Linked DNA regions of Homo sapiens: region 1 is linked to region 2. A link means that fine-mapping ties the variant in region 2 to the expression of a gene that starts in the linked region. Tissue or cell type: blood mononuclear cells. Region 2 holds a variant in brackets; the other region holds the start of a gene. All regions are shown on one strand. Distances are from middle to middle.

The links. PIP is the estimated chance that this variant, and not a neighbour inherited with it, causes the effect.
Region 1: CEP152 starts here. The variant in region 2 is fine-mapped to the expression of CEP152 in blood mononuclear cells (TOPMed, PIP above 0.99).

What each region holds. Positions count from the first base shown.
Region 1 is chr15:48,807,991-48,816,097 of GRCh38, forward strand. It overlaps CEP152 (centrosomal protein 152), which reads right to left and starts at 3,079. Exons shown (of 27, transcript NM_001194998.2): 1 at 2,971-3,079. LOC124903487 (a long non-coding RNA gene) reads left to right here and starts at 2,708. Exons shown (of 2, transcript XR_007064626.1): 1 at 2,708-2,817; 2 at 2,941-3,919. RefSeq lists enhancers at 1-6, 2,229-2,790, 3,449-3,508 and a silencer at 3,083-3,273.
Region 2 is chr15:48,725,048-48,733,154 of GRCh38, forward strand. It overlaps the pseudogene LOC645405 and a transcript of CEP152 not described here. Among named protein-coding and RNA genes, the nearest start is that of CEP152, 82 kb to the right of the region's middle. The variant C/A (reference allele first, on the strand shown) is at 3,482.

The DNA.
Region 1 (8,107 bases), 83 kb after region 2:
CTGAAAAGACCAAAATCTCCCCCACTGAAGAAGGTATAAGTTTTCCTTATCAGAACTATAAACTATAAAAGACTTTAAGAAATGATTTCAGACATAAAGGGAAACCTGATCAACTTAATGTGGTTAAAAATATATATAGTAAAAAGGTAATACATATTTTAAATGAGACTTAAAATAAAAGCTAATACCTTAACTTATTAATCACCACTCATTATCACTGCTACCAGAGACTTTAGTATAATATTCAGAACAACAAAAGAGACTTCTTTAAAAAAAAAAAATAGCAAGATAGTAAATCCAAAAGCCATAAAGAAAAATGTGATGGAAACCTAACCACAAAAAATAAAATTTTGTTTAAGGCAAAAGACATCATTAACGAGTCAAATATTATATATGAAAAAATACATCAATAACAAAGTCAAGAAAAATAAGAATAAAAAAAATTTGCAAAGCACCTGACAAAGTCCCAATATAAAATTATTACAAAGAAATGAGAAAAAGACAATCCAATATAAAATTGGGCGACTGACATGACAATTTATTTTAAAAAGTGTAAATCAATTAGTTTGAAAAGATGCTTAAGCTCGTGATGTTTCAAAGAAGTGTCATTTAAACAATATGCCATTTTCAACCACTAGATTGAAAAAACAAACAAACAAAAAAAAAACTTGTTATCACCCAGTGGTGACTATTTTGTATTTTGTATGGCTCATGAGTTGCTGGTGAAAATATCAACTGCTAAACCATCTTGAAAACTATCAATATTAATATATTGAAAATTAACATTTACACTAGTAAAATTATTTTGAATTAATTTGTCAATACTATGCCACTAGTAAAAATACTGAAAATTTTCTATATCTATTGACTCAAGGCTGACCACTTGAGAAATCAAGATGCAGATTAAGTATACAGTATGTTTTGGTTTTCTTCTTCAATAGCAGTCTGGTAGACTTTCTTCCTAGATAACTTTTTCTGAACCCTTAACAAGACTATAAAAAGTATGTCTTGTTGTTACACTCAGATGGATGCTCTGACCCAGCATTCCTTTTGTTGTCCCCGGTTGTTTTCTCTGCCCTCCTTGCAACAAAAGCAATGGGTATTTGGACAAAAGATTACAAAGCAAAAGTAGCATTGTTTTTGCTTCATCTAATAAACTATAAGCACCCTGAAGGCAGAATTAAAATGTATCTGCCTGCTTGCACATGGTGGGTACATAACAAATATTTGTTGACTGAATATGATATAGGCATGTTACCTTATACGAATTCATTACTTCAATAAAATTTTATTGAATACCCACTGTGTTCCAGATCATATCCTAGATGCACCTAAGACATGGTACCAGCCATGAGGAGCTCACTGTCTCTGCTCACCCTCTCTTAGATAGAGCCACTGATATAAACAGTTACAATAACATATTGTAATAAATTCCGTAGTAGATGAAAGTACAAAGCACAAATTACTTTTCCTAAGAAGAAAGGATAGTTTAGAGAAGTTTTACAGAAAAAAAAGAGCTTTTAGATTAGAAATAAATCTTAAAGGACACAATATGGCTATAAGTGGTTCTAAGAATGAGGGCACTCATTCAGACAACCTGGGCTCAATTCTGGCTCTTCTATTTATCAGCAGTGCAATCTTGAGCAAACTGTTTCTGCTTCTACGTTAAAGAAATGGGGGTAAAAATAATACCTACTTCAAAGATTGATTCTGAGGATTCACAAGATACTACATGTAAAGTAATTAGCACTATGTACCAATCAATACATTGTAGTTTTATTACTATTATGACATTATTACTGATGAATAGGAGTCTGCCAGCTACCGAAGAGGTTTAGGGAATAAAGAGGATTCCGCATATCTGAGAAAAGGTGAATGTGCAGCCTATGAGAAATGTCACTTCTAATAATGCAACCTCCTATGGAACAAAAATGCCACCCTCCTTCAAGATGCCCTCCCAAGCCTGTTCCCCCATGGAGCTGGCCACTCCTTTGCACTTTCAGACTGTATTTCTTATGCTTTTCTTATGGCTTCAACTTCAGCTTCTCTTTAGTTGAGTGCATTCACCTGTCTAGGGAGTGCATGTTCATTGTCACGCACTATGAAGGTATAAGGTGATAATAGGCTTAAATCAGACTCAAGTTCATGACTACGATATAGGAAGGGTTATAAACCCCCACAAAAGGGGTTTCTAAGAACTGCACTTGGAGTTGGGAAATTCTACTTACTTGCTGACATAACTCGCCTTCTAGAATGGAAATAGCCAGAGCACATAGCCCGGTTTAGACTTGCAACACCTGGTGGAGACACCTTATTCATTCATTCGACAATTTACCAAGCACTGTTCAAGATTACAAAGTTTAACAGGACACGATGAAGGGAAAGAAAATAGACATATAAACAAATGATCACAACATCTTGTGATCAGTGCTAATAACAGCACTTTGGACAAATTGATTCAAGTTGCCCAGAGGGCGGAGCGAGTAATGCTAATACACAATAAGCATCCACAGGCTGAGCGAATGACCTTGAGGAACTGTTTGGCGTCAGCTACGGCACTACAAACATGACCAAAGCCGCACGGGGCCCAGGATGCCCGGGGCTACTGGCTTCGGGTGCCAGCGTCACTTGTACTCGGTCAACACACGTGCACAGAGCACCTACTGTGAGCCAGGCGTGACGCCAGGGTGACCAAGGCGGGGTCCGCAGAGTAGGGTCTCAGGGCGACCCCAGCAGCCTGGAAACGAGGCGGGCTTCCCATATGTCACTTCTAAGTAGGATATTGGAGGAATGAAGAGGTCTAAATGACACGTTAAGGTAAAAGCTGAGCCCGCAACATGCGGGCAGTCCACCACCGCGGGATTTGGGGAGGGGGCAGGTCAGCCCCCCCAGGAACCCTCAGCCAGCATCCCGAGGACCCCGCAACTCCTCTAACCCCAGGTCCAAGCTCACCCGTGAATCAGAACTTACCGGAGGCCACGGAGGCTGTTACCGCGAGGAAACTCTAGTCCTGGCGGAAGACCAACTTCTAGCAGATCCCCTTACCCTGGCTCTAGTCCACTAGCTCCTTCCTAGTCACAACCGAACTCACGGGGCGGAGGCCCTTAAGGAGCACTCGCATCCTTCAATCGCCGACTAGAAGCTCGCCCGGTGGGCGGAGCCGTGCCAGCTCAGGGCAGAGCGAGGAGGCAGAAGTCTCCGCCTTCCTCAAGCTTGGTTGAGAAGTCCACCTGCAGTTGCAAAGTACGGCTGTTTGAAAGCGGGCGCCAGAGGTGGCGGGAAGCTCCCCCTGTGCGCCCATTGGTGGATTCGAGAGCCAATTACGAGGAAGTCACCCCGGAGTGGGCGGGCTGATCGGTTGCCTAGAGACGCCGAGGCGCTTCACCCGCTACCTTCGGCCAGGGTGCAGCAGTCTTACGGGGACCCCTTGCCCGTTTGGTACCGGAGACTGCAAAGGTGACTCGTGCCTCCTGCGCTTCAGCACACAGAATCCCGCAGATTCCCCACCGAACTCTTGCCTTAGAGGTTTTTTACATTTGCCCTTGTTTTCTAAGGCGCCTGCTTCCCCATTATTTAACAGCCTTAGATATTTTGCTTTGTCTTCTACCTTACTAGGTGCCGCTTTGTTTACATTTTTGCTTCTTTAATTACTGATAAGATGGCACATTTTTCCACGTGTCTATTTACTACTCTAATTTCCTCGGGTGTGAGTGTTCTTGTCACTTAGGTGTATATTATTAACCTGCCCCTAAAGACAGCGCCACCCAGTCCTCAGTAAAGCCCAGTACTGTGTCTATCTTCTCTGGCTGAAAGGGTTCCAGTGAATAATCAAGGAATTGGTGGCGGCAGGTTCACATATCCTTTCAACCCTTTCCCATGTGTACTGGCACGGAGTAAAATGGTTGTTCGAGGCTCTTCATACTGTGGCTGGTTTTCCTTTGCTACTTCACCGTCCGCCCCCATGATGCCTACACTGACCCCTGTAACCCCATAAACTGGTATAGGGTTTGGCAAACAACAGGTAATTTAACCCACTGTAATAGAATGAACGAAATCACAGCCTGAGCTAACAATGGTTCCCAGAGCGCTTTTTTTCTTTCACCTGCTGTGAAAGCTGTTTCTTTCACCTGCATCGCCTCTACCTTCTCCTGCTACTTAGTTTTGAAGACAGACTAGCACCTCCTTTGAAGCCTTTCATGACACACACTCCCTCACTTCGCAAAAATGATCTTTCCTACCTCTGTACACAGTGTATCCTATATATCCTATTATAGTTCTTTTATCTACTGTAAGTTTTTGTGTGTCTTACACTCAGTACAACGTGAATATCTTGAAGTACTCACTTTACTTCTTGGGTGTCTAACATGACCCTGGTAGGCACTCAAAACAATTATGTTAAATGAGTAAATGAATAAATGAACAAATAGATGAAGATTTTGGCAGGGGGGCAGGCAGAAAAAGCAAATAAAAGGCCTTCAAGTAAATGGCATTTGTTGAATCTGAGCCAAGGCATCTTAGTGAGAATTAAATGCACTTTTCACTTTTCACATCCCACTGAAGTCGATTGGCAAACTGTATGTTGCATTCTGTGCTGAGGGTTATGATGGAGTGCTGCAGCAAGAATGCCAGGTGATCCCCATGCACAAACAACTGCTTCTTAGAAGGATGAAAGCATAAAACGTGTCAGGGTAAGCACATGAGGAGGCAGTGTTTATAATCCATTACACAGTGCTTTACAGATTGGTAAATTCTTTCACAAGCATCATCTCATTTGGTTCTCACTACAACACTGTGGGGGGTTAGGACAGGTATTCCTACCCATTTTCCAGTTGAAGAAACTTACATAAAAATAAATTAAATGACTTGTCCAAGGCTACACAGCTAATACAAGGCAGACAGAATCTGAAACCAGGTCCTTTATCTCCAAACCCAGAGCTCATCACTACATACAAAATATTTTAGTGAGACTAGCATATACGTGACAAAGAGGGAAAATAAAGAATAAATCAACCTCCCATCCTGCCATGCCTCTAAAAATGGTTTTTGGTGGAGTTATGGATATATTCAACTAAATTTCTTTGACCACCTATCCTGTTTAAGTCCTGGCCTAGGTGCAGGGTAGGACCCCTATGCTCAAGGTACCAACACTCTGAGTTACAAGATGCTTACGTAGAAAGATAAATAATAATAAAAATTGTTTACTAAGTGTAATAAGAGTAGAATAGGCAATAATTCTAGGGAAAGTGAACACCTAAAGATGAATCTATCAAGGCAGGTTCAAGGAAGAAGAGAAGGAGAGAGCTCAACAGGTCAGTTGATTAGCATGAGTGCAATTTAAAGGCCAGACCAGCAAAAGTGCAGGAATCTTACATTTAGATGTAAGTCTGGAGAAGAAGGCAGGAAGGAGGTGGTCCATAGAAGAGCTTTAAGCCTGGGAGAATAGGAAGGGCATTCTACAGAGGTCAGGTAATGGTGTGCACAAGGAATGAATCTAACATCCAAAGAAACACAAGCAGACAGAGGCATTCTGGGATAAGAAAGGCAAGTGTGGGAGAAGAAAGTAAAACTGCCAAAGATCTCAAATGCTGGACAAAAGATTATTTGTGAAACGTTGGCTCGATGTTTACCTTGCATGTTTTAAATGGGCACACCTATGAGCTGGGTGAGACATTTCAAGAGAAAATGTCACATTGTTGATGAGATGGGGTCCCTCCCACTAACAAGCATTTATAAAGGTAAAGCTAAACCATTATTTCTCCTTTTTCCTCCTTTTTGGTGTCAAAGCTATCAGGTCAAAGCAATGTCATCACAGGAGTGCTATCCAAAGTGCTATCATCAAGGAGTACTATCTTCAAAGGAACACAGAACTTAGAGTAAGAAGATCTGAGTTCAAGTCCCAGTTCTCCTACCTACTAGCATTGTCCATAACAATTTAACACTCAAAAGCCTCAAAGTCCTTATCTGAAAATAGGGATGATAATACCCACTTCTCAGGATTGTGGCCAAAAAAAAATGAGATGAGATTGTGAGAAACAGCTTTTAAATGTAAAAACATTATTTTCCATTGTGTTTCTATGTACTATGGCTTATTGGATTAGAGTACACACTGGGGTCTGAGGTAGTAAGGAAAAACCAGGAAGGTGTTCTGGGAGTGGATGGCAGAGAAAGACAAGGGTGAATGTGTGCCGAGGGCAACAGGAGCTTATGGGATGGGACAAACAAAGAGTCTACACAAAGGATATGGCTTCATGAGAACAGGACAAAAATAGGAAGTGCTAGAGATGGAACAGGAGTACTTGGAAAGAACCAAGGAAGATCAGACCATTATTTACATCTTATTCAACAGTATTTTGGGAACACCTACTTTGTGCCAAACACTGTGCTGGGATCATTTAATATTGACATGTGGATCAAAATGCCCACTCTGCTCAAGTCCCTTCTCACAGAATCTGCTCCTGCTCACAGTCATTATGACCTCACCACCATCACCATCCTACCACCCACGGTCCTGGCCAGACTTGACTGAATCAAAGGGGAACACTAGACCCAAGCTGGGCCAATCGTATTCCCTTCCCAGATAACTAAGATTCCACAAAACTGAGCAAGGTGGTAGCCATACAGAGGAGAAGCAGACTTTTATTACACTTGCCTGTATTTTATGGGAAATATGCTTCCTCCATAACTGTGTCATATACATGGTAGACCCTAGACTGAAGATCATGAACTTTTGCCACTGAAAGCCATGTATCTGTCTGGTTCCTGTACTTTGAAAAGCCAGACAGTTTAGCTTTTCCTTGCATTCTGTGATAACTAAACCTTAAAAACTTTTTGACTTGAGCTGGCTTGGGTCATTGTAGAGGTTGAATCATGTTCCCTAAAATTTCATGTCCACCTAGAACTTCAGAATGTGACTTTATTTGGAAATATGGTTTTTGCTGATACAATTGTTTAATATGAGCTCATTCGGGATTAAACTTAGGTAAAGCTAAACCATCATTTCTCCCTTTTCCTCTTTTTTGGTGTCAAAGCTATCAGGTTAAAGCAATGTCATCACAGAAGTGCTATGCAAAGTGCTATCAGCCTTAAGTCTAATGACTGGTGTCTTCATAAGAAGAGAGGACACAAAGAGACACATAGGGAGAAGACAGCCATGTGAGGGTAAAGGTGGTGATTGGGGTTAGATTGCCATAGGCCAAGGAACGTCTGGGGCCACCAGATGCTGGAAGAGACAAGAAAGGATTTTTCCCTAGAGCCTTTGGAGGGAGCATGGCCCTACCACATCTTGATTTCAGACTTCTATCTTCCAGAACTGTGAGAGAATAAACTTCTGTTGTTTGCGGTATTGGTTACAGTAGCCCTAAGAAGTTAATAAAGGTAGGTTTACATTCTTGGCAACCAAACATTCATGACTAAGATACATTTTTAGTGATTATATTTGAAAAGTCTAGACCAGTGATACTCCAAATAGGGCCATGGTCCACTGGTATACCTCATTTGTATTAAATGATACAAATGCCCAAGGCATTTCTTCAATTATCATAGGAAAATAATTTGTAGATTTTTATTTTTACATACAATTAGAAATCCACCAAGTAAGATATAGGAAGTTACTAATGTTAAGAATTTGTAAATTAAAATGAGTGCATTTTTCGGGTTTATCAAGAATGATCATCATTTGGATGTGCAATATTACAAAGCTCTTGCTCATGCACAGTTGAAGGTAATTGGAATTCCCAGTTTTGGAAGGAGGATGTTAATAGCACCATTCCCCCAGGAAGTCATGGTCTTTACGAGCTGTTATTACTGTTTATTTATTAACTATGTTTGGCTTCATCAATATCAAGTAAGCTTATTGTGAGTTGTTTGATTAAACCAACTCTATGTAGTGTTAACTACTTTAAATATTTTCACTTTTTCTATAGCGACTTTAAAATAATATACATTTGGGTGGGGCGCCATGGCTCATGTCTGTAATCCCAGCACTTTGGGAGGCTAAGCCCGGCAGATCACCTGAGGTCAGGAGTTTGAGACCAACCCAGGCAACATGGCGAAACCCCGTCTCTACCAAAAATATAAAAATTAGCAAGGCGTGGTGGCACATGCCTGT
Region 2 (8,107 bases):
TGGAGGGGAAGTGGAAGGAGCGGAAAAAGAAAAGGACTTTCCCCTTTAAAATAAATTCCAGCTCACCTGTAAGCCAAACCAAATAAAGACAGTATAGGGATTAAAGCCATGGCCTCTAGCGTCACAAGAAAAAAAAAATACATCTATATTTAAATGTAATGTTGGTTCCTTAGTTGTGAAAAAGTTACCATAGTGATGTAAGACATTAACAACAGAGGAGTCTGGGTGAGAGGTATAGAGACTCTGTATATCTTTGCAACTTTTTGGTAAACCTAAACCTATTCTCAAATGAAAAGTTTACTGCCAGATCAAATTGAAAAGCTTACCAAGCATCTTCCACCAAGAACAATTGGCTATCCACGGACTCTTGTTTATGGTACTGGAAAACATGGCACAAGCTTGCTTGAAAACTCTTTATCGAACAATGACAGGTTTAGACACCCCAGTGCTGATGGTAATTAAAGACAGTGATGGACAGGTTTTTGGTGCGTTAGCAGCTGAGCCATTTAAAGTGAGTGATGGCTTTTATGGTACTGGAGAGACCTTTGTTTTTACATTCTGTCCAGAGTTTGAGGTCTTTAAGTGGACAGGAGATAACATGTTTTTTATCAAAGGAGACATGGATTCACTAGCTTTCGGTGGTGGAGGAGGAGAATTTGCCCTTTGGCTTGATGGAGATCTCTACCATGCAAGAAGCCATTCTTGTAAAACGTTTGGGAATCGTACACTTTCTAAGAAGGAAGATTTCTTTATCCAAGATATTGAAATCTGGGCTTTTGAATAAATACAATGCTCTCTGTCTTAGCAGGAGAATGGCCCAAACCTGACATGGACAAGCATTGTTTGGAAAGTTCAAGAAGCAATACAGTGTAACATGTCACTTGTGCTTTAAAATTGGTCTGTCTCACCATTTATTACAGGTATAATTTTGGAGTTTATTTTTCAAATAATGTTCTTGTCCCAGAGTTCTTTAGGTTAACACTATGGACTGCGTCCATGTACTAGTATAACAGCTTGGGTTTGTTAGAATTTGGGCAACATTTTGATTATAATGACAACTTCATTTTCACATGTTACTCAGTTCCCTAATAGGATGGTGCTCTTTTGTTGAACCTGTATTTTTTTTTTTTAACTATATTGATTCGTTTACTAGAACCATCTAATTGGGGCATTGAGGAAATGAAGACTAGATACTTCTGTATCTGTGAAGTTGGCACAGGTAACATTTGGACATGTTCATCTTATTCTTAGGAAGGAAAAAATCACTTGCCAAAATAATACATACTTCATAGACAAAAAAAAAAAAAAAAAAGACTTGGGTATAACTTTTGGCTTTGCCTGCTGCAAGCTTGTGTTAACCATGAACAAATTACTTATCTTCTCTAAGCCTTGATTTTAGCCAACCATAAAGTGCTTATACAGAGCCTCACTCAAAAAGCTGTTGTGAGGATTAAAGGAGTTAGTGAAGTGCTTGGCACAATGCTCATCATCAAGTTAGCATCTGTAAATTAGTTGTTCTCATGACTGTGCCCACCAAAGGACTGTGCACTTCAGTACTCAAGGGAGAGCATGGTCCCTTCAATCCACCCTGTCTTGATTCTCCAGTACTGTTGATAGCAGAGTCATCTTCACAAACACCCAGGCTCTAAATCCCTTCTCAGTAGGTCCTGGAAGCATGGGTGTGTCATATTCTCAATCTTGTCACCTCTTCATTTCCACCACATCTACCCTGGCTCTGGCCTTGTTCCTTGCCTGACTGTCCTTGGACATTGTCCTCCTGGTTCCTTGGCTGTTTGCTCTGTTCCTCCAAGTCCTCCTATTATATGGCTTCCCTAATCTCTCTAAATCATGCTACCAAAACTTCAACAACTCTCCCTTTTCTATGAACCAAATTTCGAATTCTTTGGCTTTGACATCCAAGACCATCCATGATCATGATCTAGCCTCAATTTACCTATCTCACTATTCTTCATGTACTCTTTTTTTTTTATTATTTATTTTTTTTTTTTTTTAGAGGGAGTTTCGCTTTTTTATCCAGGCTGGAGTGCAATGGCACAATCTCGGCTCACTGCAACCTCTGCCCCCCAGGTTCAAGCAATTCTCCTGCCTCAGCCTCCCGAGTAGCTGGGATTATAGGCGCCCACCACCACACCTGTCTAATTTTTGTATTTTTAGTAGAAACGGGGTTTCACCATGTTGACTAGGCTGGTCTTGAACTCCTGACCTCAGGTGATGGGCCCGCCTCAGTCTCCCAAAGTGCTGGGATTACAGGCGTGAGCCACCGCGCCCGGCCTTCACATACTTTTAAATCTGGTTTACCTGAATCTTTAGGTAATCATATGCCTAAACCTTAATAATAGCAAACACTGAGGCCCAGACAGGCTACAGAAACAGCTAAGACACAGAGCTAATGACAAAGCAGACTTTAGGTCCTTGATGGCATTCTAAGTTTACACTTTGGAAGGACCCAACATCTACCAACATATAACAATGATGGAAAAAGTATATAGAGAAAAAAGACTTTTAAAACACAAAATGTCCCTGAGGACTTGAAAAGTAAGGTACTACCTGTTCTGTATCTAAATGTAGTAAAGGTAGGCCTGGTACGGTGGCTCATGCCTGTAATCCTAGCACTTTGGGAGGCTGAGGTGGGTGGATCACTTGAGGTCAGGAGTTCGAGACCAGCCTGGCCAATATGGTGAAACCCCATCTCTACTAAAAATACAAAAATTAGCCAGGAGTGGTGGTGCGTGTCTGTAGTCCCAGCCACTCAGGAGGCTGAGGCAGGAGAATCGCTTGAACCTGGAGGTGGAGATTGCAGTGAGCCAAGACTGCGTCACTGCACTCCAGCCTGGGCGACACAGTGAGACTCGGCTTAAAAAAAAAAAAAACCAAAAGTAGTAAAGGTGGCCAGGAGTTTCTGCAGAATAATAAGGACTAAAAGCATCCAACTGAGGAAAGGAACAAAGGACAAGCTTGCTGTCTAAAGCAGTAGTCCAGGTAGGGGTTCCTTACCTCAGGGAGGCTGAAAAAGCTACACTCTCCACCTGAGGCCACAAGTTATATTAAAACTATGTATCTAGAGAGCCTAGAGGTTAAAGGCAGAGCTTTGCAGCCAGGAACTGGGCCAAGCTGCCTGCTGGCTCAGTGACTAGCTTTAGAATAGCCCCACTAGATCAGAAATCACCTATGTAAGACCCAGTCTTGGACTGGGTACTATATGGAGCCCATATGGAGGCAACCAAAAGAACTAGACAGTGGTGGGAGAGAACTCAGAAGGAGAAAAAAAATCTTCTTCACTGTTAGACTGCAAGTTAGACTGCAAGCCAAAATTCCACACGCGTGGGGGAAACTAATTCTGTGTAAGGCAAAAACAAACAAACAAAAAGCAACAATTTGGATATGAACTCACTCCCAAGTGACATGATAAATTACTCTAGAAGTAACTTTAAGAATTTCTTAGTCTTTAAAAATATAAATA[C/A]ATAGAATCTATTAGAAAACAAGATTACTAAACAGGTAGAAATTTTACAAAAAGTCTAGGTGTAAAAACACCAACTAGAAATCCCGGAAGTGAAATTTCAAAACTCAATAAATTAAACAAACAAAGACAGAATTAGCAAACTGGAAGATAGTACTTCCAGTGAAAAAAGACCTCCACAAAGTAGCACAGAAAAATAAAAGTATACAAAAGAACAATGAAGAGAAACGAGGATGGGGCTATGTCTAAGAGAAGTTCCAGAAGCAGGAAACAGAAGGAATGGTGGAGTTAGAGTGGCTTCCTTCTAATCTTTACCCAAATGTTACCATCTCAGCGTGACCAACCCTCACTATTCTATTTAAATTTGTAACCACTCCCTCTTTACTCCTCTTTTTACCCTTACCTGCCCTTATTTTCTCCATAGCACTTACCAACTTCTAACATACTACATAAGTTATGTGTATTTACTGTCTCCCCTGACTAGAGTGTGAACCATGAAGGTAGAAACTCATGTTTTGATAAGCATTGTATCACCCTAGAACATTAACAATCAGTTGTTGACACCTCATAAATATTTGTTTAATGAATAGCTATTGGCTGAGCATTTTTCATAATCGAAGAAAAGTGGTAAGTCCTCAGCTTGAAGGTGAACAGCAAAGATCTAAAAAAAAGTTATAACACATTATTGTCACAATTAGGGCAATTTGAATATAGAATGTATGTATGTTGGCTGGGCACAGTGGCTCACGCCTGTAATCTCAACACTTTCGAAGGCTAAGGTGGGAGGATTGCTTGAGCCCAGGAGTTTGAGACCAGCCCAGGCAACATAGCGAGACACTGTGTCTACAAAAATATTTAAAAATTAGCCAAGTGCAGTGCTGTGTACCTGTAGTCCCAGCTATTCAAGAGGCTGAGCGGGGAGGATCATTTGAACCCAACAGTTGAAGTCTCGGTTCAGTTGCAGTGATTTGAGCAACTGCTCTCCAGCCTGGGTGACAGAGCAAGATCCCATCTCCTAAATAAAAAAAATTTTTTAAGTGTATATGTATATAAATATTTATCAATATTCAATGTCCTAAATATGACAATTGTATTTAAGAAATAAAATGTTTTTGTTCTTAGAAAATGTATGCTGAAGTATTTAGGAAGGAATACTCAGGGTGTCTGCAAATAATCTTCATGGTTAAGGAAAAATGTTTTTATATACATGTACATACTATGTACATGCATACATATGTATATTTACAGACAAATATAAAACAAATGTAGAAAGTAAACAATTGGTAAATCTAAATGCAGGGTATATAGGTGTTTATTTTCTACAGATTATGAAGATTTTCAATATAAAAAGTTGGGGAAAATAAAGAAAAAATTAATAAATACACAGAAAAGAGATTACTCCAGTACGTAACAAATAAATAAAAATAAGGAAATTTCTGGTGATACTGGAGTGAAGAAGCTCCCCACCGGCCCCCCCCAAAAAAAATTACTACAAAACTGAAAAAAGAAGAAAAACAACCATTTCAGGGCTCCAAAAATCAACCAAAGGGAAACAACCAAAATTGAGAAGCTGCTGAACTTTGGAAGATCAGTGAGACTCTGAGGCGTTCTTACCAGGGGCTGCTCCCATTCCGCTCCCCAGCTTGATCAGTGAGGTAGTGCTAACAGTGTAGGAATGACAGTGAACATTAGCAGCCTCTCTGCTACAGTGGGCTCACTTGATTTGGAGTAGAAGGAAAGGAGCCCATGCCCAGTAGTAGGGTTAGTTAAAAACAGTAAAGTTAGAGGGACAAAAACAGGGAAGATGCATAGCTCCGCTAGTCTGAGATTGCAGTCCCATTTGGGGCAAGAGATGGGCAGACTAATTTTTAAATTAACAGGAAGAAAGTCTAGAAATGAGGGGCTAAATAAGCTCTCCGCATATCTCTGCTGGAGTGGGAGGCTGTGTGCATATGTAGGGAAAACCTAAGAAAGCCCATGCTCACCACATATCCCTGAACTAATGAGGATGTGCACATGAGCAGGAAGACCTGGAAGCGCTCAGAGGGAAGCAAAGTGGAGGAAGACTGGAAAATTGCCTGAACATTGAATGCACAGACACATCAGCATAGGATGAAGACCTACTGACTCAAGGTTTTTCAATACAGCCTTCAACCAATAATTGAATAATCATTAAGCAATACAGATGCATAGAAATCCCCTAAAATGACCAGCTAAAAACTAGAAATGCAAATTAAAACAACAGTGGAGAAATCAGCAGGCACACACCATAGAGGATTTTGCAGATAAAGTCTAAGCAAATAATGAAACAACACAACAATAATAATAAACCAGCAATAACAACCCCCAGGGGAACAAATACCAAATCCAGAGTTGCCACAATATGTTACGTAAAATTTCCAGTTTTCAACAAATTTATAGCGTATGTAAAGAAACAGAAAGTCTGATTTATATCAAAGAAAAAAGCTGTCAAGAAAAACTATGCATGTGCTTGGATGTTGAATAAAGACTAAAAGTCACAAAAGGACAAATACTGCATGATTTCACTTACATGAGATTTCTAAAATAGTCAAACTCACAGAAACAGAATAGAAGGGGGCTGTCAGGGGAAATGGGGAGTTACTGTTCAACAGGTATAATGTTTTAGTTACTCAAGATGAAAACGTTCTAGAGATCTGATGTAAAACACTGTATGTATAGTTAACAACACTGTATTGTGCACTTAAAAATTTGTTGAGTATATCTTACCTTCCTGTGTTCTTACCAGACAAAAAATATTTACCAGAAAAATATATGGAAAAGAAAAAAATAAGATGAAAATATGATGACAATGACTCAACAGGGAATATTGTATTATAGTTGCTATTTTAAAATAGTCACGTTTTTCCTGACGAAAACGAGCAATGGGGAAAGGATCTCCTATTCAGTAAATGGTGCTGGGAGAACTGGCTAGCCATATGCAGAAAACTGAAACTGGACCCCTTCCTTACACCTTATACAAAAATTAACTCAAGATGGATTAAAGACTTAAATGTAAAACCCAAAACCATAAAAACCCTAGAAGAAAACCTAGGCAATACCATTTAGGACATAGGCATAGGAAAAGACTTTATGACAAAAACGCCAAAAGCAATTGCAACAAAAACCAGAATTGACAAATGGGATCTAATTAAGCTAAAGAGCTTCTGCACAGCAAAATAAACTATCATCAGAGTGAACAGGCAACCTACAGAATGGGAGAAAACTTTTGCAATCTACCCATCTGACAAAGGTCTAATATCCAGATTTACAAGGAACTTAAACAACCCCAACAAGAAACAAACAACCCCAACAAAAAGTGGGCAAAGGACATGAACAGACACTTCTAAAAAGGAGACATTTATGTGACCAACAAACATATGAAAAAAGCTCAACATCACTGGTCATTAGAGAAATGCAAATCAAAACCACAATGAGATACCATCTCACGCCAATCATCTCACGTGATTATTAAAAAGTCAGGAAACAATAGTTGCTGGCGAGGTTGAGGAGAAATAGGAATGCTTTTCCACTGTTGGTGGGAATGTAAATTAGTTCAACCATTGTGGAAGACAGTATGGCGATTCCTCAAGGATCTGGAAACAGAAATACCATCTGACCAGGCAATCCCATTACTGGGTATATAGTCAAAGGATTATGAATCAATCTGCTATAAATACACATGCACACGTATGTTTCCTGCAGCACTATTTACAATAGCAAAGACATGGAACCAACTCAAATGCCCATTAATGATAGACTAGATAAAGAAAATGTGGTACATACACACCATGGAATACTATGCAGCCATAAAAAAGAATGAGATCATGTCCTTTGCAAGGGATGTGGATGAAGCTAGAAGCCATCATCCTCAGCAAACTATCACAGGAACAGGAAACAAAACACTGCATGTTCTCACTCATAAGTGAGTGAGAACATTGGGAGCTGAACATTGGGAACACATGGACACAGAGAGGGGAACAACACACACCAGGGCCTGTTGGGGGTTTGGGGTGAGGGGAGGGAACTTAAGAGGATGGGTCAATAGGTGCAGCAAACCACCATGGCACACATATACCTAGGTAACAAATCTGCATGTTCTGCACATGTATTTTTTTTTTTTAGAGTAAAGGAAAAAAAAAGAATACATGATCAATGATGAATCTCTGGTTAAAAAAAAAGTCATGCTTTTAATTCTTTAAACATTTTACCTTAATTTTTAAAACACATTTGTAATAGCTGCTTTGTAGCTATTTTTAAACAAGTAACTATTAAAGAGCCAAATGTGGCCAGGTCTGGTGGCTCATGCTTAAAATTTCAGCACTTTGGGAGGCCAGGAGTTCGAGATCAGCCTGGGCAACATGGTGAGATCCCTTACTTATAATTAAAAAAAAAAAATTAGCCAGGCATGGTGGCATACACCTGTAGTCCCAGCTACTTGGGAGGCTGAGCGGGGAGGATCACTTGAGCCCAGGAGTTCAAGGCTGCCATGACTGCACCACTGTACTCCAGCCTGGGAGACAGAGTGATATACTGTCTTAAAATATATACATACATATATATAAAATGATGTTTTTGTATCCATTAACCAACCACTCTAGTATAGTAGGG